Regions from separate parts of the Homo sapiens genome. Here region 1 is linked to region 2. The links come from fine-mapping of genetic effects on gene expression. Tissue or cell type: whole blood. Region 2 holds a variant in brackets; the other region holds the start of a gene. All regions are shown on one strand. Distances are between the middles of the regions.

What was found. PIP is the estimated chance that this variant, and not a neighbour inherited with it, causes the effect.
Region 1: LARS1 starts here. The variant in region 2 is fine-mapped to the expression of LARS1 in whole blood (TOPMed, PIP 0.96).

What each region holds. Positions count from the first base shown.
Region 1 is chr5:146,181,201-146,183,830 of GRCh38, forward strand. It overlaps LARS1 (leucyl-tRNA synthetase 1), which reads right to left and starts at 1,450. Exons shown (of 32, transcript NM_020117.11): 1 at 1,288-1,450. The coding sequence starts at 1,293. RefSeq lists enhancers at 974-1,133, 2,042-2,630.
Region 2 is chr5:145,898,230-145,900,995 of GRCh38, forward strand. It overlaps a transcript of GRXCR2 not described here. Among named protein-coding and RNA genes, the nearest start is that of GRXCR2, 27 kb to the left of the region's middle. The variant T/C (reference allele first, on the strand shown) is at 1,182.

The sequences.
Region 1 (2,630 bases), 280 kb after region 2:
AATTTAACTGGGCATGGTGGCGCGCGCCTGTAGTCCCAGCTACTCGGGAAGTTGAGGCAGGGGAACCGCTTGAACCTGGGAGGAGGAGGTTGCAGTGAGCCGAGATCGCGCCGCTGCACTCCAGCCTGGCGACAGGGCAAGGCTCCGTCTCAAGAAAAAAACAAACAAACAAACAAAAAACAAAAAAAAATAAAACCAGGCGGGATGGCTCATGCCTGTAGTCCCAGCACTTTCGGAGGCTGAGACAGAAGGATCGCTTGACCCCAGGAGTTCGAAACCCTGTCTCTACTAAAAATACAAAAAATTAGCAGGGTGTAATGGAGCACGCTTGCAGTACCAGCTGTGGGGAGGCTGAGGTGTGAGGATCGCTTGAGCCCTAAGGTCCAGGCTGCAGTGAGCCATGATCACGCCACTGCATTCCAGTCTGGGTCACAGAGTGAGAACATCTCCCAAATTTAAAAAAATTTTTAAAAATTGCAACTGTACTACCCCACCGTACACTCCCTAGCACCCCTTCCTGCTCTATTTTTTCCCCACAGCATTTATCAGCACCTGACACAATATTTTACAATGTATTTTACCCACACACATAAACACTATGAAAAGAGAGATTTTTGTCTGTTTTACGGAGAGGCGCTCAATTTTTTCTTTTTTTTTTTTTTTTTTTTTTTTTTTTTTTGCTGTAAGTAGGAATCAACTTACATACTCCTCTCTCCACCTCGGCTTTATTTGTTTGTTTATTTATTTATTTTATTTTTAAGACGGAGTCTCACTCTGTCGCCCAGGCTGGAGTGCAGTGGCGCGATCCTGGCTCACAGCAGCCTCCCTCTCCCGGGTTCAAGCAATTCTCCTGCCTCAGCCTCCCGAGTAGCTGGGTTAACAGGCGCGCACCACTACGCCCGGCTAATTTATGTATTTTTGGTAGAAACGGGGTCTCACCATGTTGGCCAGGGTGGTCTCGAACTCCTGACCTCAAATGATCCACCCGCCTCGGCCTCCCAAAGTGCTGGGATTACAGCCGTGGGCCACCGTGCCCGGCTCTCCACCTCGATTTTAGAAACTCCAGAGAAATAACAAATATGATATCCAAGTACTCCGTAAAGTTAACAGACATCAGTTCGTGGTTCATAAACTAGCAAGAAAAAGCAAAGTCTCTACGAAAGGCACGCCTTAAGCGTGGCTCTCTTTTAGAAAAGGACTTTCCCTTCAGGACAGCACATGGAGAGCCCCTAGAGACTGGCCAGTCCGGCTCCAGGGCCCCTGCGGATTCTTCTCGCTCAAACTCACCGCCATTGCACCGCCCAGCCGACTGTGCAAATCCACGACAATGACCCTGGCGACCTCCACAAAGGAGTGGTTACCTTTCCCCTCCCTCTCGGGGATGCCAGGCCTCCCACGAAACTAAAGCACACGCTTCACACCTGCTGAGGCAATCATCCGGCTCCTTACTAACTACAGCCAAGGCATCTCACAGCCCGCCGGGAATTGTAGTTCCCAGACCACCCGAGCAGACACCCAGCAGGCGCTAACTGACTACAATTCCCAGAGAAAAACGGGTTATCGGAAGTCTACCCGATAGGCCCACTCAGAGGGGAACCGGCAGTGACGTCACTGGCATGTTGAACTACAAAGTCCATGATGCAGTGCGGGATCGCAGAATGCCGCGAGTGCGCCCTGGTTAGGTTGGAGTCCCTTGGCCATCAACCTTTTCACCCGGTAGAGCTGGTTGCCTGTCGGGATGCCAGGATACGCAGTTAATTACTATACGGTGACTGAGGTGCTACTTATGGCTTGCCACTATGCACAGATATTTTTTACTGTCAGTGGCATTCAACAGCCCAGCATTTAGACATTGTATAACCGCGTATTGACAATCTCCTTTTTTTTTTTTGAGACGCAGTATCGCTCTGTCGCCCAGGCTGGAGTGCAGTGGCGCGATCTTGGCTCAGTGCAACCTCGGCCTGCCGGATTCAAGCAATTCTCCTGCCTCAGGCTCCCGAGGAGCTGGGACTATGGGCGCGCGCCACCACACCGACTAATTTTTTGTATTTTTGGTAGAGACTGGGTTTCACCTTGTTAGCCAGGATGATCCCGATTTCCTGACCTCGTGATCTGCCTCCCTCGGCCTCCCAAAGTGCTAGGATTACAGGCGTGAGCTACCGTACCTAGCCAACAATCTCCTTTTTTTTTTTTTTTTTTTTTTTTTTTTTTGAGAGGGAGTTTCGTTCTGTCTCCAGGCTGGAGTGCAGTGGCGCGGTTTCGGCTCACTGCAACCTCCGCCTCCCGGGTTCAAGCGATTCTTCTGCCCCAGCCTCCTTAGTAGCTGGGACTACAGGCGCGCGCCACCGCGCCCAGCTAATTTTTGTATTTTCAGTAGAAACGGGGTTTCACCATATTGGCCAGGATGGTCTCGATCTCCTGAACTCGTGATCCGCCCGCCCCAGCCTCCCAAAGTGATGGGATTACAGGCGTGAGCCACCGTGCCCGGCCAACAATCTCCATTTTTAAGCAAGAGACTGAAAGCCTACCTGGTCCCATTGCCTGACTCAGACTATTTAGACCACTACCAAACAGGGCCAGGGGCGGTGGCCATAATCCCATTATTTTGGGATGCCGAGGTGGGCGGATGA
Region 2 (2,766 bases):
TTCCTGGAAACACACAATCTCCCAAGATTGAATCAGTTCTGAAATTGAATCAGTAATTAAAAAAAAAAAAGCCTACCAACCAAGAAAAGCCCTGGACCAGATGGATTCACAGCCAAATCTACCAAATGTTCAAGGAAAAGCTGGCACCACATCAATTCTACTGAAACTATTTCAAAACATCAAGTAGAAGGGACTCTTCCCTAATGCATTCTACAAAGCCAGCATCACCCTGATACAAAAACCTGACAGACAAAATAAAACTATAGGCCAATATCCCTGATGAATATACATACAAAAATCCTTTAAAAAATACTAGCAAACTAAATTCATCAACATGTTAAAAAGTTAATCCACCATGATCAAATAGGCTTCATTCCTGGGATGCAAGGTTGGTTCAACATACACAAGTAATAAATGTAATTCACCACATAAAAAATTAAAAACAAAAACCATATTATCTCAATAGACAGGAAGGACAATAAAATTCAACATCTTTTCATGGTAAAAACTCTCAAGAAACTAGGCATCATAGGAACATACCTCAAAATAATAAGAGCCATCTATGACAAACTCACAGCCAATATCATACTAAATAGGCAGAAACTGGAAGCATTCCCCTTGAACTTGAAGATGTCCACACTCACAACTCCTATTCAACACAGTACTGGAAGTCCTAGCCAGAGAAATCAGACGAAAGAAAGAGATAAAAGGCATCGAAATAGGAAGACAGAAAGTCAAATTATCTCTTTTTGTGGACAATACAATTCTAGACCTTGAAAATCCTAAAGACACCACCAAAAGGCTCTTGCAACTGACTTCAGCAAAGTTTCAGGATACAAAATCAATGTACAAAAGTCAGTACTATGCATTTCTATGCACCAGTAATGTTCATGCTGAGAGCCAAATTAAGAACACAATCCCATTTACAATAGCCACACAAAAAATAAAACACCTAGGAATACATCTAACCTAGGAGGTAAAAGACCTCTACAAAAAGAACTAAAAACACTGCCAAGAGAAATCATAAATGACACAAACAAGTGTAAAAACATTCCATACTCATGGATTGAAAAAATCAATATCACTAAAACAACCTTATTGCCCAAAGCAATCTACAGATTCAACACTATTTATAACAAACTACCAACATAATTTTTCACAGAATTGGAAAAAAACTATTC[T/C]AAAATTCATATGGAATAAAAAAAGAGCTCAAATAGCCAAAGCAATTCTAAGCAAAAAGAACAAAGCCAGAGGCATCACATCACCTGACTTCAAACTATACTATAAGGCTGCAGTAACCAAAACAGTATGGTACTGATACAAAAACAGATACATAAACCTATGGAACAAAATAAAGAGCCCAGAAATAAAGCAGCACGTCTACAGCCATCTAATAATCTTCAACAAAGTTGACAAAAATAAGCAACATGAAAAAGACTCCCTATTCAATAAATAGTGCTGGGAGAGCTTGCTAGCCATGTGCAGAAGAATGAAATTGGACCTTTACCTTTTACCATATACAAAAATTAACTCAAGATGAAGACTTAAATGTAAAACCTCAAACTATAAGAATCCTAGAAGAACACCTAGGAAACACCATTCTGGACATGGGCCTTGGGAAAGAATTTATGACTAAATCCTCAAAAGCAATTGCAACAAAAACAAAAACTGATAAATGGGACCTAATTAAATTAAACAGCTCTGAACAGCCAAAGAACCTATCAATAGAGTAAACAGACAGCCCCACAGAATGGGAGGAAATATTCACAAACTCTGCATCCGACAAAGTTTTAACAACCAGAATCTATAAGAAACTTAAACAATGGAGCAAGCAAAAAACAACCCCATTAAAAATGGGCAACAGATATTGATATGGTTTGGGTTTGTGTCCCTGCCCTAATCTCATGTTGAATTGTAATCCCCAATGTTGGAGGAGGGGGTCTGGTGGGAGGTGATTGGATCATGGGGGCGGATTTCCCTCTTGCTGTTCTCCTGATAGTGAGTTCTTACGAGATCTGGTTGATTAAAAGTGTGTAGCACTTCCCCCTTCACTCTCTTCCTCCTGTTCTGGCCATGTAAGATGTGCCTGCTTCCTCTTTGCCTTCCACCATGATTGTAAGTTTCCTGAGGTCTCCCCAGTCATGCTTTCTGTACAGCCTGAGGAACTGTGAGCCAATTAAACCTCTTTTCTTTATAAATTACCCAATCTCAGGTAGTTCTTTACAGCAATGTGAAAACAGACTAATACAGATACAAACAGACACTTCCCAAAAGAAGACATACAAGCAGCAAGCAAACATGTGAAAAAATGCTCATTCTCACTAATCATGAGAGAAATGCAAATCAAAACCACAGTGAGATGCCATCTCACACCAGTCAGAATGGCAATTATTAAAAAGTCAAATAACAACAGATATTGGCAAGGCTGCAGAGAAAAGGGAATGCTTATACACTGTTGGTGGGAATGTAAATGAGTTCAGCCACTGTGGAAAGCAGTTTGGAGATTTCTCAAAGAACTTAAATCAGAGCTGCCATTGGACCTGGCAATCCCATCACTGGGTATATATCTAAAAGAAAACAAATCATTCTACCAAAAGACACATGCACTTCATCACACTCAATGCAGGGCTATTCACAATAACAAAGTCATGGATTCAACCTAGGTGCCCATCAGTGGTGGATTGTATTTTTTAAAGGTGGTACATATATACTGTGGAACACTATGCAGCCATAAAAAAGAACCAAAGCATGTCCTTTGCAGCAATA